Linked DNA regions of Homo sapiens: regions 2, 3, 4 and 5 are each linked to region 1. The links come from fine-mapping of genetic effects on gene expression. A gene starts in region 1. Each other region holds a variant in brackets. All regions are shown on one strand. Distances are between the middles of the regions.

Evidence for each region.
Region 2: its variant is fine-mapped to the expression of IMMT in visceral fat (GTEx, PIP 0.96).
Region 3: its variant is fine-mapped to the expression of IMMT in macrophages (Alasoo 2018, PIP 0.95).
Region 4: its variant is fine-mapped to the expression of IMMT in whole blood (INTERVAL, PIP 0.99).
Region 5: its variant is fine-mapped to the expression of IMMT in whole blood (TOPMed, PIP above 0.99).

What each region holds. Positions count from the first base shown.
Region 1 is chr2:86,193,053-86,198,157 of GRCh38, forward strand. IMMT (inner membrane mitochondrial protein) reads right to left here and starts at 2,410. Exons shown (of 15, transcript NM_006839.3): 1 at 2,286-2,410. The coding sequence starts at 2,330. MIR4779 (microRNA 4779) reads right to left here and starts at 56; the gene lies at 1-56. RefSeq lists enhancers at 1,911-1,960, 2,081-2,260, 2,281-2,400.
Region 2 is chr2:86,225,441-86,230,545 of GRCh38, forward strand. It overlaps REEP1 (receptor accessory protein 1), which reads right to left. Exons shown (of 9, transcript NM_001371279.1): 7 at 1,923-1,958. Among named protein-coding and RNA genes, the nearest start is that of MRPL35, 29 kb to the left of the region's middle. The variant C/T (reference allele first, on the strand shown) is at 2,929.
Region 3 is chr2:85,493,351-85,498,455 of GRCh38, forward strand. No RefSeq gene overlaps it. Among named protein-coding and RNA genes, the nearest start is that of PARTICL, 43 kb to the right of the region's middle. The variant A/ATGTGTG (reference allele first, on the strand shown) is at 2,199.
Region 4 is chr2:86,167,993-86,173,097 of GRCh38, forward strand. IMMT (inner membrane mitochondrial protein) reads right to left here. Exons shown (of 15, transcript NM_006839.3): 5 at 3,216-3,353; 6 at 2,757-2,852. Among named protein-coding and RNA genes, the nearest start is that of MIR4779, 23 kb to the right of the region's middle. The variant G/T (reference allele first, on the strand shown) is at 1,975.
Region 5 is chr2:86,121,328-86,126,432 of GRCh38, forward strand. It overlaps PTCD3 (pentatricopeptide repeat domain 3), which reads left to right. Exons shown (of 24, transcript NM_017952.6): 8 at 152-267; 9 at 2,374-2,435; 10 at 3,668-3,755; 11 at 4,128-4,188; 12 at 4,468-4,553. Among named protein-coding and RNA genes, the nearest start is that of SNORD94, 12 kb to the right of the region's middle. The variant T/C (reference allele first, on the strand shown) is at 2,597.

The DNA.
Region 1 (5,105 bases):
CTCCTAGAGTAAAGAATGGACTCTAGGAGGGAACAGTAAAAGCAGTAAGACATTTAAGAAGATGGGGTTGGCTGGGCACGGTGGCTCGTGCCTATATTCCCAGCATTTTGGGAGGCAGAAGTGGGAGGATCATTTGAGCCCAGGAGTTCGAGACCAGCCTGGCCAACACAGAGAGACTCCGTCTCTACAAAAATTTTTTAAAAAATTAGCCAGGGATGGTGGCACATGCCTGTGGTCCCAGCTACTCAGGAGGCTGAGGTAAGAGGATTGCTTGCGCTCAGGAGGTCAAGGCTGCAGTGAGCCATGACTGTGCCACTGCACTCCAGCCTGGGTGACAAAGTGAGACTCCGTATCCAAAAAAAAAAAAAGAAAGATGGGGTTTAATAAAGTGGAAAGGATCTTGACAAGTGAGATATTCTGGATACGTTGATACAATCAAATACGACGAGGCTAGAGAGTCACCTGCTTGGGGATTAAAGTTCTGAGAGTTGATGTAATCTCAAATTAGAGAGTCTATAAAGAGACAGGAAGAGATGAGAAGGTGTATATTTCGAGGTACAAAGCAGAAGCAGACTCAGTAAAGGAAAACAAGAGAGATGGGACCCAAAATATTACTTGAGAGAAGCCAAAAGTACAAAGAGCCTCATAAAGCAGCAATGTCAAATGCTACAGAATTAAGGAGATGGTGAGAATAAACCAAAGAATTTTACAAGACAGCAATTTCAAGAAGCTTAGACATCTTGATTCAGAGCTATAAAAGGGTTCATTTTTTATTACCAAGTTTTAATTAGTTTTCTTAATTCCCAAATGGGATCCCAAAAAGTTGACTCTGAATTAACTGAAAAGGAGGTCATCCAGGTGGGCCTGGTCTAATCACATAAGCCTTTTAAATCTGGGTCTAGAGAGGAAAGACCAAAGTAAAAGAAATTTGGAAGTCAGAGAGGCAAGCTCCTGGTAGCCTGCACGAAAGCAAACATCAATGTTATGAATGGCCTCTAGAGGCCTTGAGGCAAGGAACTGTAGGCAGGCTGTAGAAGCTGGGAGCAGTGGCTGGCAAGAGGCAGCAAGAAAAGAAGTACTTCAGTCCTGTAACTGCAAGGGACTGAATTCTGCCAACAAACTGCATGAGCCTGGAAGAGGACCCTGATCTCCAAATGAGAACCACAGCATGGCTAATACTTTGCAGCCTTATGTGACCTGGAGCGGAGAACACAGATCATCCGTGCCCAGACTTCTATCCTACAGAACCCGTAAGGTCATTCATGGGTGTTGTTTTAAGCTGCTAAATTTGTGGTATTTGTTACGCAGCAATAGAAAACTAACACAGGTTCGTTCCACTTTCCTATGGAAGGGGCTGCTTCTGTTACCTAGCAGCAAATAGGAAGAGAAGCGAACTTGAAAAAACAAAGCTTGACTTTTATGATCTCTAACTCACTATTCCTAGGGATTCTGTTCAATTACTGCTTGAGTCACAGTACTTGGTTTGCTATCTACATTTTGCCAAAATATCAACTTCCTGAAAATCATGAGCAGTGGAAACAGGCTTTTTAATTTTCAATTTTAGAAAGTAACTTTGGCAATTACGCAAAACTAGAAGTAACTGGGTATTTAGGCTCCTTGAATGTCAAAGTAGTCCCAGCGCCTGGAGACACAGATCCCTGCCCTAATCTCAGAAATGAGCCACAAGGTCATGACTCCTGTCTTTCCTTGAAGACCAGGAGTTTCAGCTCCACAAATGAAAATCTTTCGCTTTTGTTTGGATTAAGAATAACTCAGAAGTGTTCTCAGCTGCGAAAAGAAAGGCACTCCCTCCCAGATAATTACAACCTTGACCCCTAAAATGTGGACTCTCGCTAGAAGTCCAGGCACCTCCTTATTAAGGATGCAACAAGCCGCCGCTCCGCTCGTCCTGACGGGAACTGTAGTTCTCGCCCGTCGACCTTCAGCACTGAAAACCTATCGCGCGCCCAACCGGCGACCCAGACGCCAGCAGCCAGGATTGGTCCTGGACGGGGGCAGCGCGGCCCTGATTGGACTACATGCCCACGAAGCCGCGCCTCCCGCTACTCTCCACACCCCACCCCGCTGCTGCAATAACCTCAAGTCATCCCAGTCCGGCGAACTCCCTGGTGGCTGCCTAGCTGCCCGCCCGGGCCTCTCCCGACGAGGGTGGCCCTGAGGCTCGCCTTTGTCCTGGAGGCTAGGCAGCGACCAAGGCTCCCCCGTTTTTCGCTGACGGTTCTAGTTCAGCCTCCTCACGCGCCTCCGGGAGCCCCAGTGCTCACCTGGGCGGCGGCGGTCACACCCGATAACTGACAGGCCCGCAGCATCTCGGTCAAGCGGACGGCGCTGCTGGTGGACTCGAGCTGCCGCGGCGGCGCGAGTTAAGTGGAGGCGTGCTTGCGTGTGTGCGTGCCCGCGTCCGCGCCCGGCGCACCGGAAGCACAGCGGACGCCACTGCGCACGCGCGGCCCCTTCTACCGTCCCCGACTCCGCGGCTCTTAGAGGGTGGGCTGTGTCCCGGCTGCGGAAACGCCAACTCCAGGCGATTGGCGCGAAGGAGGCGAAAAGGGCGGATTCCCTTTCCGGGTCGCGCCCGGGCTGCAGGTCCTTATCCGGAAGGGGTTACTAGGTGAACACTGCCGGAGGGAGAGCGCTCTGAAATCCATTCTTCAGCCGCACGTGGAAAATGGACAGCTGTGACTCTTAAAGAGAATTAAAGCAACAAAGCATCTCAGCCTGCTCTATGAGCTGGATATTTCGTAGGAAGGAGCCGATTTGGCGAAAGTTACGTAAACAATGGAATTGTCTCAGTTTGCGCCTTTGTTTCGTTTGACAGCCCTCCAGGGAGTCATAGTGATTGCTGGAGACGGTGAACTAACACTGTGGGGACCCTTGTGCTAAACGTGTCAAGTGGCACAACAAGGATAGGAACACGGGTCCTTTGGACTCCACAGCTTCTGCTCCTTCCAGATTAAGCCACACTGCTTTCTCCAAGTTGTTACTGTAGTAACATCATTTTGGCTGCAGTTTGTGGATGGGTTGGAAGATGGGAAGTCAATGCAGAAGCACCGTTGAAAGTATTCCACTGGGCAGGGCGCGGTGGCTCACGCTTGTAATCCCAGTACTTCGGGAGGCCGAAGCGGGAGGATCGCTTGAGCCCAGAGGTTCGATACCAGGCTGGGCAACACAGTGAGACCTCGTCTCTATATAGAAAAATAAACAAACAAAAAATTTAAAAAGAAAAGTAGGGCCAGGAGCTATGACTCACGCCTGTAATCCCAGCACTTTGGGAGGCCAAGGCGGGTGGATCGCCTGAGGTCAGGAATTCGAGACCAGCCTGGCCAAAATAGTGAAACCCCGTCTTTACTAAAAATACAAAAAATTAGCTGGGCATGGTGGCGGGTGCCTGTAATCCCAGCTACTCGGGAGGCTGAGGCAGGAGAATTGCTTGAGCCCGGGAGGCGGAGGTTGCAGTGAGCCGAGATCACGCCATTGCACTCCAGCCTGGGCAACAAGAGCGAAACTCTGTCTCAAAAAACAAAAGTATTCCATTGATTCTGTAATCAAAATAAAACACGTTAAATATTAAGCATGGTATTAATACTCCATGTATACTCCAGAATTAATATGTTCGTATTAATACTATTAGCATCTTATTGCAATATCGTGGAAACTAACTTTTCTATCTTCTATTGGATTTGCAAAGTATTCCAAGTCTTAACTGGGTAATTTATTACAATATGTATTCTCTCTAGAGGTAGACTGCGCTATGACTTGTAGCATGGAGAGATGGACTTGAAAATTATCTGAAAGCAATAGTTATGTTTGTATATGTTCTATGTTCTATGGTTTTTAGGGGACTACAGTAATTACATATGTTTCATATCTCTTTCACTTAGCTTCCAGAGCAGTCTCCCGTTTTCTTTAGTAATTTTAGCAATTGAATTGCTGCCTCCCTGCCCACTGCTGTCATGCCCAGTGGTGCCGGTGTGATGACTTTTCTAACACCCTTGTCTTTGAACTTCTTAATGCCAGTGAACGCTTTCATCCTGCTTCAGTCATGTGGTGCCCGTGTGATGACTTTTCTAACACCCTTGGCTTTGAATTTGTCAATGCCAGTGAATGTTTTCATCCTGCTTCAGTCATGTACGTCACAGCCACAACTTGCGCCTGAACATCATTAGCAACCTCTCTAGCTTCAAGATCTCAAACCTCAAAATTAGCCTCCCAACCCCTCATAACCTACGTGGAGAGTCCTCACTCTCCACTTGGAAGTTGTCAATATTTTTGCTTTAAAATGTTATCAGGCAGGCCAGGCGCTGTGGCTCACACCTGTAATCCCAGCACTTTGGGAGGCTGACGCGGGCGGATCACCTGAGGTCAGGAATTCGAGACCAGCCTGGCCAACATGGTGAAACCCCGTCTCTACTAAAAATACAAAAATTAGCTAGGCTTGGTGGTGCGCGCCTGTAATCCCAGCTATGTGGGAAGCTGAAGAAGGAGAATCACTTGAACCTGGGAAGCAGAGGTTGCAGTGAGCCAAGATCACACCACTGCACTCCAGCCTGGGGGACAAAGCGAAACTCCGTCTCAAAAAAAAAAAATTTGTTACCAGGGGCTGGGTGTGGTGGCTCATATCCCGGCATTTTGGCAGACTGAGGTGGGAGGATCACTTGAGCCCAGGAGTTTGAGACCTGCCTGAGCAAAAGAGTGAGACCTCTCCCAGCACTTTGGGAGGCCGAGGCGGGCGGATCATGAGGTCGGGAGATCGAGACCATCCTGGCTAACACGGTGAAACCCCGTCTCTACTAAAAAAAATAATAATAATACAAAAAATTAGCTGGGTGTGGTGGCAGGCACCTGTAGTCCCAGCTACTTGGGAGGCTGAGGCGGAGAATGGTGTGAACCCGGGAGGCGGAGCTTGCAGAGAGCCAAGATCGCACCACTGCACTCCAGCCTGGGCAACAGAGCGAGAGTCTGTCTCCAAAAAAAAAAAAAAAAAAAAAAAAAAAAAAAAAAGTGAAACCTCATCTCTATAAACAATTTTTTTAAATTAGCAGGGGATGATTGTGCATGCCTGTGGTGCCAGCTACTTGGAAGGC
Region 2 (5,105 bases), 32 kb after region 1:
TTATATTTTTAGTAGAGATGGGGTTTCTCCATGTTCGTCAGGCTGGTCTCGAACTCCCGACCTCAAGTGATCTGCCTGCCTCGGTCTCCCAAAGTGCTGGGATTACAGGTGTGAGCCACTGCGCCTGTCCTAATCCCCAGCTCTTCTATAAAGGACTTAAAAAGCTGAGCACTGAGAGCCTTAAAAATAAAGCAATGCAGGGAAAACAGGACACGTCACATAATGCAGTTTCCTGTCTTGCTCACTGCCGATGTGGGAGGGGCATGTCATGCCTCCGCGGCACCAGGGCTGGAGCAAAAGCTATATTAGGCACCTTGCGTGCCTTCCTTCCTCCCCTGACACCAGCCAGCAGGCTGCAGGCCAGGCACGGCCCCTCTTGCCTTCCAAGCCTAAGGCAGCTTCTCTATGGGGAGCCAGGCAGTGTGAAAGGGGCACTGGATTAGTCCAGGACCCTCACTAGTCCCTAATGTGTCTACTTAAGGTTAGGCAACTGGAGAAGCAGGTCATGGCAACCACCAGGTGGCTGTGGCTCCAACAAGCCATCACTCACACGCTGGGAGGGCAGCAACAGGAGTCTCTGTCCAGAACCGGGAGACCTCCACTCTCCCTGGGGTCTCCTGGATGCTCCAGGCTATCACCACCACCACCACCACCACCACCACCACCACCACCACCATCATCACCACCACCACCACCACCATCATCATCATCATCATCCTCATCATCCTTCCCAGGATTATTATGGCCCTTTCACAGCCACTTTCACAACAGCACAGTGAGGCCGGGAAGCAGGGATCTCATCTCCGTTTTAAGAGGAGGAACTGAAGCTCACAGCGGTTAGGTGATTCACGCAAAGTTGCACAGCAAGTAAGTGGCAAAGCAGGAACAGGGCTCCCTTGGCTGCCCCAGGACCAGAAACCCCTGGAACTTCAGGACTTCATCATTTCAGAGGACCTTAGTCCTCTGAAGTTCCTGTGTCCTTACCTGGAGCACAAGGAAGTATGACCCTGTTGTGGCTTTTTCTTTTCTTTTTTTTTTTTTTTTTTTGAGACAGGGTCTTGCTCTGTCACCCAGCTTGAGTGCAATGGCACGATCATGGCTCACTGCAACCTTGATTTCCCAGGCTCAAGCAATTCTCCTGCCTCAGCCTCTCAAGTAGTTGGGACTACAGGTGCACACCAGCACACCTGGCTTTTTTTTTTTTTTAATTGTAGAGATTAATTCTTGCTATATTGCCCAGGTTGGTCTCGAACTCCTGGGCTCAAGAAATCCTCCCACTTCTGCCTCCCAAAGTTCTGGGATTACAGGCATGAGCCACCCCGCCCAGTGACCCTGTGGTGGTTTTAAGATATCTCCACACATTCTTTGATACTCCTCCCTTCAAGAGGTGGAGATTAATTCTCCTCCCCTTGAATGTGGGCTGTGCTTAATGACTTGCTTCCAACAAATAGAATAAGGCAGAAGTGATGAGTGTGACTTCAAAACCTAGGACAGAAAAGGTACCCTGGCTTCCTGCCTGCCCTCTATCTCTTGAATGGCTCACTCTAGGCCAGGCCACCTGCCACGTTGTAAGGACTCTTAAGCAGCCTTGGAGAGGCCCAGCCAACAGCCATAAGAGTGCCATCTTGAAAGTGGACCCTCCAGTTTCGTCAAGCCCTCCGATAACTCAGCCCAGGCTGACATCTTGACTGCAGCCTCTTGAGAGACCCTGAGCTAGAACCACCCAGTTAAGCTGCTCCCAGATTTCTAGCCCACAGGAACTGTAAGCTACTGTGTTTGCTGTTATAAAGGGTTAACCTCCTGACCCCTCCCTATGACCATGCAGCTGAAAGGGAGCCCCAGGGTCAGGTGCCCACTCCTGGTTAGAAGCTCTTTCCGAGTGAGAGTCCAGCACGCTGCGGAGAGGCTGGCTGCTTACTCACCTTTCCAGGTCCTGCAGGTGGAGCAGCAGGTACACACTGTGGGAATGGGGTAGGGGCACCATCAGTGACATCCCCCACTGGACAGGAACCAGCCCCGGGCAAACAGGGAGGCCCTGGAGAGGTGTGGGGATCCCAGTGTGTACAATATAGGGATCCCAGGAAGGTGGGTCTCTGTAGAGACACCAAAGTGGGGAAAGAGTCATCTCAGATTCAGTTTCTGCTCAGGTGCAGAAGATACCCTCACCTGGCACACAAAGTCAGTCCTTGCACCCTGCAGCCCTAGGGAAGGCCGGAGACAGAGTCAAAGTTCCCTCTGGAAAATAACTCCAAGCACCCCTGCCCAAAGCCTCCTCCTCTCTTTGCTTTCCAGTTCAGAATGTCCTCCAGGAAACCTCCCCAGACTTACCTCTGAACCCCAAAGTGCTTCGCATCTGGGCATTTGCAAAGGCCTAACTGGCTGCTGCCTTGTACACGCCATTGGTCTTGGTGCACATCTGGGCCTTGGCAATAGAGTAGGTGCTCACTAAATACATGCTCACTGAGTGACTCCAAGTCCATGGAAGGCCAGGATCATTCTTTCAACATTTCTTGTACACTTCCTGGTGTCCAGTGCTAGGCATTCAGCATATGGTATCTGACTACACACCTTCCAGCTCATTCTGCAGGGAGGGCCATGTCAGTCCCTGCCTGCCCTGACCCTTTAAGCAAAGAGGAAAACTCCAGGCAAGAGAGAGGGTCAGGCCAAGTACACTGCCCAGCCCCATCCTGGGTGCTGAAAGCAACAGGAAAGAACTCTCCTTCCCCTTCTCCAACGCCTAGACCCTGTGTCCTCACTGCACATACAGAGGTCTCTGTGTGCCAGGCATGTGGTGAGTATGTTGGGTAGGCATTTACAGAGGGAAGCACAGAACCCTTGTCTGCCTGCCAGGAGCTTGCAGCGCTGAGTGACCGTGCAGGGACAGTCTTTGTGCCCCTTCCTCCCTTCCTCGTTTGTGTGCATCTTCCT[C/T]CCTTTTCTCAAGATGCAGGAGGTCACATGGATGTCCCTTCTTGGCTCACAGCAAATGGTCCACACTGGTTCATGGGATCCCCTTCACTTTTTTTTTTTTTTTTAATGAGACAGAGTTTCACTCTTGTTGCCCAGGCTGGAGTGCAATGGCATGATCTCAGCTCACCGCAACCTCTGCCTCCCGGGTTCAAGCAATTCTCCAGCCTCAGCCTCCCGAGTAGCTGGGATTACAGGCACCCGCCTTCACGCCCAGCTAATTTTGTATTTTTAGTAGAGACAGGGTTTCTCTGTGTTGGTCAGGCTGGTCTCAAACTCTCTACCTCAGGTGATCCACCCGCCTTGGCCTCCCAAAGTGCTGGGATTACAGGCGTGAGTCACCGCGCCTGGCAACCCTTTTTATGTGCCTTTACATGACTTTTATTCCCACACCCCACTCACATTCTCCTTCCTCCTCAAGGAGTGTCACTTTTAATATTTTAATGTGCAACTTTTTGTTTGAACATGTTCTTCATATAAACTCCGTATTGTTACTTTGCATGATAGGCATATATTTTTTACATAAATTGTTAGATAAAATCTCATTCTGTTTTGCACTTTTCTTCACCTGGCATCATGCTTTCAAGTTCCACTGTGTGCACCCTTAATCTGTTGCTTCCAGCAGCTGCAGAGAATTCCACGAGGTGCAGCTCCCACCTCTCTCCAGGTTGTCTTCAACCCCTGCCACCTGTCCAGGGTTTGCAAATTCTCTGGTTTGCTCTCCTCACAACCCTAAGACATAGGCTGAATAGGGACTATTCGGTCTTTTTTACAAAGAAGAAAGCCTGAGGGAATCAGGTCTGTCCTCTGTGCCAAGGCCAAATCTATGGTAGCGACTGCCTGGGTTGTTCTGAGAGAAGTTCTGAGGCTGAATTGAGGCTCAGGAGGAAGGAGCATGCCTTGCTGTGCTGCATTTGCTGTGTCTGCACAGGCCCGGCATCACCCAGCCAGGATGAAGTCTAGCCTCTTCCCCTTTTCTGGGGCCCTTTCTGCTACCTGATCTGGCCTGGCATCTGAGGCCCACACTGGGGGCTGAGCTGGGGAGAGTACACCAGCCCGGTATAAATTGGCTTCCTCTGCCAGACTTCCTCCTAGGCATGTTGACCTTACTTCAGGGTATGATAGCCCAAGAGCCTCTGACCCAGGAAATTCTGCCCCATATCCACGCCCCAGGCCATCTTTCACCTGTCTTCCTTTTTTTTTTTTTTTTTTTTTTTTTTTAAAGATGGAGTTTCACTCTTGTTGCCCAGACTGGAGTGCAATGGTGCAATCTCATCTCACTGCAACCTCCGCCTCCCCGATTCAAGCGATTCTCCTGCCTCAGCTACTCCATGAGTAGCTGGGATTACAGGCATGCACCACCACGCCTGGCTAATTTTGTGTTTTTAGTAGAGACGGGGTTTCTCCATGTTGGTCAGGCTGGTCTTGAACTCCCGACCTCTGGTGATCCACCCTCCTCAGCCTCCCAAAGTGCTGGGATTACAGGCGTGAACCACTACACCCAGCTCCTGTCTTCCTTTTTGAGATGGCTTTTATTTTAGGCTCCAGAACAGCTGGAAAGAGCACTACACTGTCCTTGGCCTCCCTGCTGGGTTGCACCTTTCCTCTTTGCCCCCTGTGGTCATAGGTGCGGAGGCCAAGGGGGCCAGCAGTGAGGAGGGCTGGGGCATAATGCAGCACAGCTGGTCCTCTCAGCCTGGGACAGCCAGAACACTCCCCACTGCCTCCCTGGGGCATGGCAGGGGACGTCATCACCTCTGCTCATGGAGAGTGGCAGAGCCAGTGCCAAAGCAAATCATCCCAAATGCTTTTCTACCTGATGCTGGGCTGGGAAGATACTCCAGGCCCAGAAGACACTGCCATCTCCCTGCAGACCCTGCCAGCTTCTTGCATTCCCAGTTCTGAGGCTGCCCTGAATAATTCACCAGGGGAGGTCTAGGCAGGAGGCCTGGATTCTGGGCCTGGGGGCCTCAGCCCAGTGCACAACCTCTCTGAGCCTGCTTCCTCCACTGGGCTCACCTCTAAAATGGCAACACAGACTCTTAGAGGCAAAGGGACGCCAGGGCCACCTAAGCCCGCTTCCTAGCCAAAGCAGGAATCCCTCCCTCGAACCTGACCATCCAGCTTTGGCTTGTGTCCTT
Region 3 (5,105 bases), 700 kb before region 1:
ACAATAAGCAGGCTTATTTAATATTTTAAGTGACATGGGAAGCATTGTCAAATAAGAAATGATGTTTAACTTTCTTTTTTTGTTGTTTTGCTTTTCTGCTTTTTTGAGATTGAGTTTTGCTCTTGTTGCCCAGGCTGGAGTGCAATGACACAATCTCGGCTCCCTGCAACCTCCACCTCCCAAGTTCAAGCAATTCTCCTGCCTCAGCCTCCTGAGTGGCTGGGATTACAGGCATGCACCACCACACCTGGCTAATTTTGTATTTTTAGTAGAGATGGGGTTTCTCCATGTTGGTCAGGCTGGTCTCGAACTCCCGACCTCAGGTGATCCGCCTTCCTCAGCCTCCCAAAGTGCTGGGATTACAGGTGTGAGCCACCGTGCCTGGCCTGATGTTTAACTTTCAAATTACATTTTGGATATGTTATTAATGTATGTTCCAAAATTGGCTGGGCACAGTGGCTCATGCCTGTAATCCCAGCACTTTGGGAGGCGAAGGCAAGAGGATCCTTGAGCCCAGGAGATTGAAATCAGACTGGGCAACATAGGAATCTCTTCTCTACAAAAATAAAAAATTTAGCCAAGTATGTTGGCATGCCCTGTGGTCCCAGCTACTCTGAAGGCTAAGGCAGGGGGATTGCCTGAGCCCAGGAGGTCAAGGCTGAGCCATGATCATGCCACTGCACTCCAGTGTGGGCGACAGAGCAAGATCCTGTCTCAAACAAACAAAAAAAAAACAAAAAAAACAAGGCATGGTGTGGTGGCTCATGCCTGTAATCCCAGCACTTTGGGAGGCTGAGGTGGGTGGATTGCCAGAGGTCAGGAGTTTGAGACCAGACTTGCCAACATGGTGAAAACCCATCTCTACTAAAAATACAAAAAAAAGTAGCTGAGCATGGTGGCGGGCACCTGTAATCCCAGCTACTAGGGAGGCTGAGGCAGGAGAATAGCTTGAACCTGGGAGATGGAGGTTTCAGTGAGCCAAGATCGCACCATTGCACTCCAGCCTGGGCAACAAGAGCAAAACTTAGTCTCAAAAACAAACAAACAAACAAACAAAAACAAAATAAGACTGTATGAGATTCCTAAAATTCTGATATGTCTTGGTATAAGTCACAGTTATGGCTATTATGTTAAATTATTACAGTCCACAGAAATAACCAAATTTCCTTGTCAATTGGGTCTTTAACTATGACGATTTTAAATTGTTTCCACAGTTAATTACTTAATTCTGATGCATTTTCTGAAAGCTCTTTACGAGCAAGTAAAATCATAGAGTGTTGTGTCTTCAAGGAGGTTCATGGAAAGAATATAAAGGACCCTGACAAGCACATCTTTTTTTTTTTAAAGACAGAGTCTCATTCTGTCACCCAGGCTGGAGTGCAATAGCATGATCTCGGCTCATTGAAACCTCTGCTTCCTAAGTAGCTGGGACGACAGGCATGTGCCACCATGCCCAGCTAATTTTTGTATTTTTTTGTAGAGACAGGATTTTACCATGTTGCCCATGCTGGTCTTGAACTCCTGGACTCAAGTGATCTGCCCGCCTCAGATTCCCAAAGTGATGGGATTACAGGTGTGAGCCACCATGACCGGCCATTGCCAGATTTTCATGCTAAATCAGCCAGTACTGAAATTGTTAGGATATGCAGTTTGAATGAACTCCATGGTCCAAGTCAGATTACCTGTGATAACCCAGTTTTTACCTATTTATTTATTTTGAGACAAGGTCTGGCTCTATCACCCAGGCTGGAGTGCAGTGGTGCAATCTCGTTTCACTGTAACCTCCTTCGCCACCCCTTCCCCATCCCCCACCTAAGCCCCGCAAGTAGCTGAGACTACAGACATGCACCACCACACCTGGCTGGTTTTTGTATTTTTTGTAGAGATGGGGTTTCACCATGTTGCCCAGGCTGGTCTTGATCTGTGAACTCAAAGATCCATCTGTCTTGGCCTCCCAAAGTGCTGGGATTACAGGTGTGAGCCACTGCACCAGGCCAACCCAGTTATTAAACAGTACTATTCACCTGAATTGGAAAAACAAAATTGGTATTGAAGAAGATATACATCCAATGTTAAGCATAAACTCATGGAGAGCCTGGACAGCTGCCTCATCCTTCCTGAATCCTTAAAGCTTCCACTCTTAGAAGCTCTGTACTCCATGACACATTATGGTAGAGATTAAATGATCCAAATAGAAA[A/ATGTGTG]TGTGTGTGTGTGTGTGTGTGTGTGTGTGGTGTGACCGTTTTAAATTGCTAAAATGGTTTTTGACCAATGCTTAGTTTGTCAAATCCATAATCCTGGGGAAACAATAAAAACTTCAGGTACACTTCTGCTACCTGATTGGCCATTTGAACATTTATAGAGGGAGTTCATTCAATTGTCATTCGGAATGCATATTTTCTGGTTGTATAGAAGCTTTCCCACGAAAGAAGTCTGATGATATAACAGTAGCTAAAAGTTTATTAGGAAGTGTGTTTTTTTCAGGGGGCATTCCTGGAGAAATCTCCAGTGATAAATGTATTTGTTTCATTGAACAAATTGTAAAACAGTTAAATAAGAAACTACAGACAAAATAGTACTAGGCAAAGCTAAGTAAATCAACTGGATTGTCTTGGTCAAAGGTATTGCAGATTGATGACAATTAGATCCACTTTCAGCAGAAAACATCAGTTGACCCTTTATAAAACAGTCACTGGAAGGCCTATGCCCCTAATAATAGAAACTCATGACTAGGCGCTGTGGCTCACGCCTGTAACCCCAGCACTTTGGGAGGCCGAGGCGGGTGGATCACCTGAGGTCAGGAGTTCCAAGCCAGTCTGGCTAACATGGTGAAACCCCGTCTCTACAAAAATACAAAAATTAGCCAGGCATGGTGGTGCATGTCTGTAATCCCAGCTGCTCGAGAGGCTGAGGCAGGAGAATCCCGTGAACCCGGGATGTGGAGGTTGCAGTGAGCTAAGACTGAGCCACTGCACTCCAGCCTGGGTGACAGAGCGAGACTCTGTCACACACACAATAAAACCACACACACACACAAACAAAACAAAACAAAACAAAAACTCATGTATCTTCTGCTCCTAAACTTTGATATGGCTAACTGTGGCTTTAATGCATTATGCCAAAGTGCATTTTCACCAGGTAAGGAAGGTTTTCATGATCCACTGACTGAGGACAATTAAATCCTTCATGATCAAGAACATAGAGATTGGGTCTTCTAGAAACAACACACCTTGCCACCCACACTGCAGCAAAACTTTAGGACTTTGAACCTTGGGTCTGTAATCTCACAACTCAGAAGGGCCCCTCCAGACTCTTAGAACTGTATATCTGTTGGAGACCTCAAGATAAAGCTAACCAGGGAAGTTTCTCACCAGAAGCAGATGGAATCCTAGATGTGGAAAGCTTTCTCAAGATGACAGATCAAGACTTCTTTGCCATCATGAGACTCTTACCTCTCTTAATTTTTTCCTCGCTTATGCCTTTATGAAGACTAGAACTAGAAAAAGTCTTGTGTGGACCCATGGGGTATACTTTTATTTGTGGAGGATTTCACCGCTAACCTTATGCATGAGCAACCTTATGCCTTGATGGATAGAAGATGAAGGGCCAAAGTGGGTGAGGAATTTTCACGGTACCTTTGTAGCTCCATAATCAGTCAGAAACAGAACATTGGTCTATTTCTTTTAACCTACATTATAGGTTGAAGCAAACGTTGCCAGGAGGCCTTCACCCTTCTGAATGGGCATAATTCGTTAGGTTGCTTTTTCCATGATTTGGGGTAAATGAGGCAATGATTAGAAATTTGTCCCTCATAGTAGACTCTATAGCAGATTCAACTATAAACACTATGCTAAAGACTTCTTTAAACTTTTTGCTAAAGTTGTGCTACATAATAGAACTGCTCTAGGCTACTTACTGGCTGAACAGAGAAGAATCTGTGCAGTTGCTGACTACATATATATATATATATATACATACACACACACACACACACACACAGAGAGAGAGAGAGAGAGAGAGAGAGAGAGAGAGAGAGAGAGAGAGAGGAGAGAGAGAGAGACAGGATCTCACTACGTTGCCCGAGCTGGTTTCGAACTCCTGGGCTCAAACAATCCTCTTGCCTGGGCCTCCCAAAGTGCTGGGTTATAGGTGTAAGCCACCATGCCCAGCCAATTGCTGACACTTCTTGTTGCACATGGATGAATATGTCAGGTACTATAGAGATTCATTTGCAGGGGATTAAAAAACTGGCTGCTTGGTCGAAACTCGTAGACCATTTATCAAGCTTATTCTTTAATCTATTTAATTTTAGTTGGTTCAGTTCATGGGGACCCTGGCTAAGCAGCATACTCCAAACTCTTGGTATTGTCCTTCTGGTAGTCATAATAGTCATCTCCCTGGTGAAATATATCCTCTCAAAAATTGTAAATGTTTAATGCAGCCATGCATAGAATGTCAAATGGTCTCTCTTCAACTGGGATGACAAAATCTCAAAGAAATACATAATCATGAGGACACTATAACCTATGAAAGACATGTTGAGACCAGAAACCCAAAATGATCATAACTGAGAGTAGCAATTAGCGATGTTTTGGTCACACTCTCACTTAAGTGACAACATGATCAAAAGGGGAGAATTGTTCAACAAAATTATGGGAGGCCATTGTTTTGGACTGAACTCATGCACTAGGCCCCAACAGACTAGATTGGATCTAACCAAATGGAGTCAACTCATGCTAAATGCAGCACAATCAAACTAAAACTTTAAGGAAGCATATGGATCCCCAAAGAGACCAGATTTTTTTTCTCCAGAAAAGAGGGGATTATAGTATAATAAGGAAGTCGTCTCTGCTCTACCCTTTACAAAAAGGGAATCTAAATTCCTCGTTTCCACCTTATAAAACACAGTGTTCCACTATTTCTCAGTGGGATTTGAAACCAAGTAAGTCTATTTGCTATGGTGACAAAGTGACAGCAATACATAAAGTTTGGTCAACCTCTTCATTTTAAGAGGTTGACTAAAAGGAAGAAATTGTTCAATTAAGTTTAGCCTAAAGCTGCCTGCTTACATATTTTAAGTTTAGTCTGTAAACATATTAAACTGTAACCTA
Region 4 (5,105 bases), 25 kb before region 1:
TTTCATCCCCTTGGCAAGAAGGAATACTCATAGCAAAACACTTATGTTGACAAGATACAAGAAAACAGACAAGAGAAAGAAAAAGACAAATAAGAAAACAGGTCAAAAAATACAAAACAAAACCCAAAGGCAACTTGAAATGGACAGTGTTCTTCCATAAAAGGACTCAAGAAATAGCAGACACCAATGTTCAAGAGGCTTCCATCTATTAAGATCACATTTCTATATGCTGTTTCGGGAATACCAAAAAGTAAAGCAAATGACAATTTTAGATAATTTACTAAAATGCAAAAATAAATGGTCATTTGAAGAAAGGCGGCTAGTAAGAATACTAATTTAATAATAAATGGGCCGGCGCAGTGGCTCACGCCTGTAATCCCAGCACTTTGGGAGGCCGAGGCAGGTGTATCACCTGAGGTCAGGAGTTCGAGACCAGGCTGGCCAACATTGTGAAACCCCGTCTCTACTAAAAATACAAAAATTATCCAGACATGGTGGTGGGTGCCTATAGTCCCAGCTACTCAGGAGGCTGAGGCAGGAAAATCGCTTGAACCTGGGAGTTGGAGGTTGTAGTGAGCCGATATTGCACCACTGCACTCCAGCCTAGGTGACAGAGTGAGACTCTGTCTCAAAACAAATTAATTAAATAAATGATATCACATGACAAAAAATAAAAAATGTATTTGACAAGCGAGAAAAAAAGATGATTTTGAGGAAAAGAAGCATAAACTAGCAATGAACAAATGGAATCTGAGGAACTACAAATGGTACCTCTGCAAGAAAGATAAGAGGAAAACTAATAAGGAGAAAATAAAAAGAAATTGACAGAAGTGATAGAAGTGAAATGAGAGCAGGGGATACAACAAGAGAAAGGGGCAAGGGAGAGAAACCGTGGTATTTGGATCCCATGACATGCGTGAGTGAACAGTGGACATCAAGTACAGGCAGTTGTGAACCACTTTATGGAGGCCACAGAAAGTGGGCTGCTGGGAGGCACCTGCTGCTTCCAGCCCTCTTCAGAGGTTTAGTCACTGTCCTTTGATCCTTGATAAATATTTCACATGCAAATGCATATGTGTATATTTTTAAAGTCAAGTTTGAGGGGGAATTAAGAGGTGACAGATAAAATTCTGAAAATTTTCACTTTGCCCAAAATGAAAGATGAGAGGAACCAGGCAAGGAAAAGAACAGCTGGAACAGCAGACATCTCCATCTTACGTTTATAACTTAATTTCAAGGTGCCCAAGTGATAAAGAGAGAAAAGTGAAAAGTGAAGAAAAAACAGGACTAAAAGAAAAAAGAAGTAGGAAAAATGAAATATTTCACTTAGTTAGAAGTCATTTATTAAATATTCACAAATATTTGTAACACAATCAGAAGAATACAAAAAATCAAAAACGAAAATCCAAATCCAAGTAGGAAAACTAATGCCATAGGCACAGAATGACACCTATGCTATTCTAAGAAACTTGGTTCCTCAGGGTAGGGCAGAACCAGCACATTACAAGGGAAACAGGAGCAAAACAAATGACAAGGAGATCAAAAAACTATAAACAGCTGCCATGAGTACTGAACTCTCTGTCCAGCAAAAAGCTACATCCCACGACCTCCAGAGACATCAACATATTATAGCACAGTACAAAAAATTATGTTACATGTGCTTTAAGACAGAAAAATAAATTGATAAATATCTATTATCTTTTTTAAACCATCAAAAAATTTAAGAATCCTGACCTACCGAGGACAGCAAAAATAATAATAATGATAAAAAAAACTTGGCCAGGTGTGGTAGCTCATGCCTGTAATCCCAGCACTTTGGGAGGCCAAGGTGGGAGGATTTCTTGAGGCCAAGAGTCCAACACTACCCTGACCAACACAGTAAGAGCCCATCTCTTAAAAACAAACAAACAAAAAAACCATAAAACTGAAACTTAAAAAGGAATATGCTTGTTAGCTGGAAACCAGCGATGTGTA[G/T]AACATTCCATGCCCCACCAGTGTCAGATAAAAGCACTACTAGAGAGTCCAGAGGCTAGATGATAAGGCAGTGTAAGCCATTCTGACTCCAACAAATAAATTTACAATTATTAATAAACAATTATTTACAAGTATAAATTAACAATTATTAATAAAAGACTCTTAGGGCTGGGTACAAGGGCTCAGGCCTGTAATCCCAGCACTTTGGGAGTTCAAGGTGGGAGGATCACTTGAGCCCAGGAGTACGAGACCAGTCTAGGCAACATAGTGAGATGCCTGTGTCTATAAAAAATTTTTAAAAAATTAGCTGGGTATGGTGGTACACGCCTGTAGTCCCAGCTACAGAGGAGGCTGAGGTGGGAGGATGGCTTTGGCCTGGGAGGTTGAGGCTGCAGTGAGCCATGACAGTGCCACCGCACTCCAGTCTGGGTGACAGAAAAGAGCCTATCTCAAAAAAATAAATAAAGGACTTTTAGGCAAGCTGCTAAAACATAAATAATCAATTTCTGTTTCCCAGAGTATAAAGAATCTTTAGCGCTAACATAATCTTTAGTATTATTTGGAGTTTTCACCAACTATACACTAAGAATAGCCTTTGTCACTTAGGTAAAAGAAGTTTAGATGAAATGAAGGTGATGAATAAAGCAATGCCACTAAAAAACAACCGCAGCAACAAAAGAAACCACAACTAGGTGATAGATGACAAACTTGTGCTGATAGTTTAAGAAGAGAGCAACTGGGAGATGACCCAAAATCCTTAAGAAGCTGTCTGGTTTACATACACTCAATTTTAACTTGTTCTTGTTTTTCCTGTTGTGCAAGGCGAGCTGCAACTTCTTCAGGTGGTCGCTCCCTTATAGAAGATGAGGATGCTTCTTCTTGCAGCAAAAGTAAATAAGAGGAAATCAAATTTCAGCATAGAATTTTAATAGCTAACAGGGATATAAAAAAAGCATCGTTTGTACTGGCCAGTTATATCAATGCAGGGCATTTTTGTGTTAAGAATTCTAAAACCATATCATTACTCTTAATGATTCCAAAATGAAGAAATAGGAATCAGGCTTTAATCTTCTTGTTTAAAAAGATACATTCGGACATTTAAATTTTAAAAATTTCCTAAGAAACTCTGAAGACCTAAACCTAGTGTAAATGTATACTTAGTGTCTACGTGTTGCCTAGGCATTAAATAGTTCTGATGAGTGTATCATGTATAAAAGAACAAATAGAAATAATTAAATTACCTGAAAGTGCAGGTGTGGGTTTTCCTTCACCAATTTCAGGGTGATCAGTTTTTAAAGATTCCTCAGGCTGAACTGCAGGGGCTGGGACCGACAGGGTATCACCTGCTGCAGAAATAATTTGAGCCGCTTCTGTAGGTGCTATAAATATATGTTACTCATGGTATTTATACTTTCCTGGGTTAACAGAGAAACACACAGAAATTTACTACCACCATCACCACCCACTTCACATCTGACTCCTTAGAGACACAAATATTTGTACTGCCACATGTTTGAATAACACACAAACAGGGGCACTGTCCACTGCATACATAAACTCACACAAAATGGACAATGGTTGGGAACGAACAAAAGAAAGAAGTCTTGTCTGCATCCACCTGCATTTTAACCATCATTATTCCAGGCAAGGCTTATAATAATAATATTAACACACAAGAAGGGGACATTTACACATGGAAAAAGAGTAACAAAGGAAAAAGCCTGTTAATGATGAAGACAGACAAAAGAAAGCAACTAAACAAAGAATATTTTTTAATTGCTTTGAAGAGTGGTAGAAGACGTGTGAGCAGGAAAAAGATTACAGTTTTAAACAAAAAGATGAAAGGTCACAGTGATCAAGAACAGAACTGAGTTAAAATACATATATATATATATATTTTTTGCACACTTTGGGAGGCCAAGACCAACCTGGCCAACACAGCAAGATCCCATCTCTATCAATCACTCAATCAATTTTTTGTGTGTGTAGTATATTTTTTTTTTTTTTTTTTTTTTTTGAGACAAGGTCTCACTCTGTTGCCCAGGCTGGAGAATAGTGGCACTATCATGGCTCACTGCAACCTCGACCTCCCAGGAACAAGCAATACTCCCACCTCAGCCTCTGGCACACAGCTGGGACTATACGTGTATACCACCACACCTGGCTGATTTTTACATTTTTTTGTAGAGACAGGGTCTCCCCTCTCTTGCCCAGGCTGGTCTCAAACTGCTAGGCTCAAGTGATCCTCCCTCCTCGGCCTCCCAAAGTGCTGGGATTACAGGTGTGAGCCACTGTGCCCGGCCTTGGTTTTAAAGTAACAGTCAATTATCAATCCCCTGGCTCAGCATTCTCTTCCCATCCCACCCAGCATATGAAACAATGTTTTTTTTTGTTTGAGACAGAGTCTTGCCCTGTCACCCAGGCTGGAGTGTAGGGGTGCAATCATAGCTCACTGCAGCCTCAACCTCCTGGGCTCAAGTGGTCCTCCCTCCCGAGTGCTGGGACTGCAGGCATGCACCGCCATCCCCAGCTAATTTTTAATTTTTTATAGAAACAGGATCTTGCTAAGTTGCCCAGGCTACTTTCAAACTCCTGGGCTTAGGTGATCCTCCCGCCTTGGTTTCCCAAAGTGCGGGATTACAGGCATGAGCCCATGCACCTGGCCTAAAATAAAATTCTTACAATGGCTTCCAAGGACTGCCACAATAAACTTTTTGCTCCCTCTCTGACCTCATTTGCTCCTGTTCTCCCCTTACTCAATTCACTCTAGCCTCATTTGCCCTTTGTTTGAATATATCAAGCCTCTACACCAGCTAATCCTGCTGCCTGGGATGCTTTTCCCCACCACCCTTTTACATGACTTACCCCCCTTATCTCTTTCTAATCTTTGCTCAGATAACCCCTTCCAGGTAAGGTATTCCTTACACATTCCATTTAAAACTGCAGTATTCCCTCCCACAATGTCTGACATCCTATACGTTTTACTTGTTTATTTCCTCTCCGCACCCAATCAAGAAATATTAGCTGAAAAAATTTTTTAACTGTTTTTGTTCATGGCTGTTTCCCCAGTACTTACAAGAATGTCTAGCACAGAAAAGACAGTAAATTTCTGCTGAATTAAAGAAAGTCAG
Region 5 (5,105 bases), 72 kb before region 1:
AGTTGACGTTGAGTGCATAAAGTAGTGGACAACATTAAGTGTGTAGCCCTGAAGACCACCGCTAATATAAAAAAATGACACATTTTAACCTAACAGGCTTTAGTTCTTCATTGTTTCAAGGTTTCTTTATCTTTCTGTCTCTTACCCACAGGAACCACTGTGTCTCTTGAAACAACAAATAGTCTCTTGGATTTATTGTGTTACTATGGTGACCAGGAGCCCTCAACTGATTACCATTTTCAACAAACTGGACAGTCAGAAGCATTGGTAATAACTGTTGGCCTTGATTTTTTTTTTTCCTTAAGCTTCTTTTTGAAGAAATTGCTTTTAAAAATAAGATGGGTTGTTTTGCCATGTGTCAGGGTAGTAGAGATTTGTACTGAGATGTGTGGTACGATAGCCTTGATAAAAAGTGGTATAGGAGGAAGAGAGATTTTAAACAGTTACTTCTGTCCTAGTTTACTTTTTAACAATATGTTGTCCTCACCTACTTCATATTAAGGCAAAGCGTTGATCAGAAATGTTTGGGCTGGCCTGTGCCACTTAGAGTAATGACATGATGTATTCTGGCCAGGGAAAGACTCCGTGGCCTGGGCCCCCTCAAAAATTCATACGTGGACTTAGAGGAGAGAACACACTAGGCTGGAGACAGAACAGTAGTGTGCCGGGGCCCGCCTGTAAGTTGAGTCATAGCCTCTCTCTCGACTCGCGAATTTTACTTCTAGAACTAGGTCTCAAGAAATCCTTTGGATCAGTCAAATAGAGATGCTCATGTGACATTTTTCATGAGGAGGTATTTATACTTGCAAAAATGTTGAAAACAATCTAGATGTCCAACAGTAGATGATCAAATGATGATAAAAGTTGTGTGGCCATTGAGCACATTAGAGTAGATGTGTTTGGGTATGGAAACATTCATCCAATAAGTGGGAAGCAGGCTATCAGCAGTATATATTCCATTTTTGTAAAAATGTTTTTACAAATGCATACAAAAAAATCATTTAAAAAGTGTTTCTGGGTGATGGGATTATTGGTGTTTTTCTTCGTTTCTATCTTTTCTACTCTTTGCCCAACTAAATGTGGATTTCTTGTTTCCCCCTCAGAGACAGGGTCTCACTCTGTCACCTAGGGTGGAGTGCAGTGATGCTATCATAGCTTACTGCAGCCTTTAACTCCTGAGCTCAAGTGTTCCTCCTTCCTCATTCTCCCAAATAGCTGGGACCACAAGTGTGGGCCACCATGTCTGGCTAGTTTTTTTTGGGGTGGGGAGGGCGGGTAGACATAGGGTCTTGCTGTAGTGCCCAGGATGGTGTCTTCAACTCTGGGGCTCAGGTGATCCTTCAGTCTCCTAAAGTTTTGGGATTACTGACCACTGCACCTGGCCAAATGTGGATTATTTATGTAGAGAACTTTACATTTTTAAAAGTGCATAGGCAGTAGGTTGCAGTTAAACCTTGCTTTCCAGAGTATCACTTCCTGAAGCCCTGCTCTGGTTGGCCCTCTGCCTCTCCAGCCCCAGCTCTTGAGGCAGCAGGCTACAGAGCCAACACTGACCTCTGCAATGCCAACCAAGCCTGTATTGCTCTACGTCAGCCTCATCCCAGACCTTGGTTTATAAATAAAGACAAGATTTATTCTTGTAAGAAGTCTTGCCAGGTGCAGTGGCTCATACTTGTAATCCCAGCACTTTGGGAGGCCGAGGCGGGTGGATCATGAGGTCAGGAGATCGAGACCATCCTGGCTAACATGGTGAAATCCCGTCCCTACTAAAAAAAATACAAAAAATTAGCTGGGCGTGGTGGCACGCGCCTGTAGTCCCAGCTACTCCGGAGGCTGAGGCAGGAGAATTCCTTGAACCCAGGAGGTGGAGGTTGCAGTGAGCCAAGACCACGCCACTGCATTCCAACCTGGGCGAGAGAGCGAGACTCTGTCTTAAAAAAAAAAAAAAAAAGAAGTCTTAGTTTGCTTGGGTGAGTGTTAGGCATTAACTATATGTTGTTTATCTTGCTTTCACCCTAATTATGACAGTTTATCTGTATGGATCAAGCCAGATGTAGTCTCTGAGCAAATAGGCTGTGTTGTTTGGTTTTCCTCTTTCTGTCTGAGGACCAGGCCATACAGGGAACTGGCTTCATCTTGTCTCCACGCTGTCACTTGTTGCTTTGAGAGTCAACTTGGCCTTTCATCTGATTTGCACTTAAGAAATTAACTGTATAGGTGTAAGCGTAACTGGGCTTCCTCTTTGCCTTCTGCTGGATCTATGTTTCCTTTATTTTTCTGAGTTCCCTTTGCCTTTCTGATTTTGAGTAGTCTGACTGGGAAATGCATTCCATTGCCTTAACTTTTATTTCTTTTGATGATTATTCATTTCAGGAAGAGGAAAATGATGAGACATCTAGGAGGAAAGCTGGTCATCAGTTTGGAGTTACATGGCGGTATGTCACACGTAATTAGAACCTTGAATTACAGTGTCTTACAGTGCATGGAATATGCCCCATCACCCTGTGAAGATGTTTTCTTGTGATGTTCTAAAATAATTGATTTTTATTGTGCAATATAAATTTCACTATTTGTATTCATACACATTTAGACCGTT[T/C]TTCAATAAGGTCTTTATCTCCATTCAACAACACAAGAATCTGTTGAGACTTTGACCCTTTTTTTTCCCTCATCTGTTTAACTCAGCATAACTTTCATATGGTATGGTTCCTTTGGTAGTTTCATTAACAGTGCTACCTTGGAATATATACCTCTAATTCTGAAAGATTTAATACTTTTGTTTACTAAAAATATCATGGACACTAGAGTGTACTGCTAAATTAAGACCACTGACAACATGTAGACATACACAGCAGTTTGAATGAAAGGTAATAACTTAATTATATTGGAGAATTAGCTGGGTGTCTAAAAGGAAGACACTTCATGTGAATGTCTGGAGAGGGAAAGCTACCATGATTATCTAAAATTGTTATTGAAGTGATGAATTTGATAGGATGAAAGATTAAATTCCTTGGGGTAGGCTGGACGCAGTGCCTCACACCTGTAATCCTGGTGCCGTGGGAGGCCGAGGCAGGTGGATCACTTGAGGTCAGGGGTTTGAGACCAGCCTGGCCAACATGGTGAAACCTCATCTCTACTAAAAATACAACAATTAGCTAGGCGTGGTGGCACGTGCCTGTAATTCCAGCTACTCGAGAGGTGGAGGCAGGAGAATCACTTAAACCCAGGAGGTGGAGGTTATGGAATGAGAGAAGAGTTAAAAGTACATATGCTAGAATATGACCAGAAGGATCCAAAAGAAACCGTTTTGCCTCTGGGAAGTAGTATCTGAAGATTGAAGAAAGGTGAGGAAACTTTACTAGGGACTTTGTCATACAGTTGCTTCTTGTTTTTAATAGCACAGATATTTATATACTTGTTTATAAACTTTTCATTTTCAATTGTAATTCTGCCACTTAACCTGCGAAGCCCTGACAACACATTAAGATCGTTAAGTCTTGATTTTCCCCATTTTCAAAATGATAATAACCATAATACCCTGTAAGAATTGAGATAATGTATAGAAAGTACTTGGCACATTGCCTAGAACATAATAAACCGTCAGTAAATGGTGGTAGCTCTCATTGGTATTTCTTATTGCCTGGGTTCACATTTACTCTCTTGTGTCTAGAGCAAAAAACAACGCTGAGAGAATCTTTTCTCTAATGCCAGAGAAAAATGAACATTCCTATTGCACAATGATCCGAGGAATGGTGAAGGTACATTTGTTTTATTTATTTTTGTCTTTCATTTCCACCGATCAGGGTGTTTCAGCCTCAGAACTACTAACATTTTGGGTCAGGTAATTTGTTGTGGGGTCTGTCCTGTGCATTGTAGGATGTTAGTAGCTCCCTGGCTTCTACCCACTGGATGTGAGTAGTGTACTCCTCCCCCACTTTCAGTTGTGACAAATAAAAATATGTTTAGGCATTACCAGTGGATAGAAAATCCCACTGCACTAGAGTATGAGCTTCATGAGAACAGGAGCCTGATCTATTGAGCCTGAGCTATATTACCAAACTCTAGGACAGAAATGTGCAAGGACTTCTTAAGTAAATGAATTTGATGATGCTTAATTTTTCCTTTTCCAGCACCGAGCTTATGAGCAGGCATTAAACTTGTACACTGAGTTACTAAACAACAGACTCCATGGTGAGTTTGAGAACTCCCCTCTGTCCCTTTCTCCATTTCCTTCTTTTAATTGTCTGTGTGAAGGCTTTGGATCGTGCCTCAGTCATTGGCCTACACTTTACCTTTTCCTGAGGCGTAGATGATTGAAGCAAGAGTAGAGATCCAGAGAGGAGAGTAGTTTTCCAGTTTTGTGGACATGTGATTAGTCAAGGGACACATAGGAATGACTGCTTTGCCTTAAACTCAGCCATTTAGGGATTAATCTTCAACCCCAAATTTTATCATTTTATTATTTTACAGCTGATGTATACACATTTAATGCATTGATTGAAGCAACAGTATGTGCGATAAATGAGAAATTTGAGGAAAAATGGAGTAAAATACTGGTAAGGAGGAATCCTCAGTTTATTTTTTAATAGGGCTTAAATACTCTTTACCAGAAATACATGGGCTGGCCAGGTGTGGTGGCTCAAACCTGTAATACCAGCACTTTGGGAGGCCGAGGCGGGCAGATCACCTGAGGCCAGGAGTTGGAGACCAGCCTGGCCAACATGGTGAAACCCGTCTCTACTAAAAGTACAAACAATTAGCTGGGCGTGGTGGTGCACGCCTGTAATCCCAGCTACTTGGGAAGCTGAGGCAAGAGAATCTATTGAACCCGGGAGGCGGAGGTTGCTGTGAGCAGAGATCGCACCACTGCACTCCAGCCTGGGCAACAGAGCAAGACTCCGTCTCAAAAAAAAAAAAAAGAAAAAGAAACAGAAGTACATGGGCTGGAGACAGCATTTATGAGCATGTGTATGGCAGTCACTGTGTAGCAGTTACCTGTTCACTACCCTTTCCGCAGCCCTGGGACTCAGCTGTGTCTGGCACATAAGAAGAAAAAGTTGCTTGACCGAGAGTATAGAGCTAGAATTCTGGACCATTTTATTCATTTA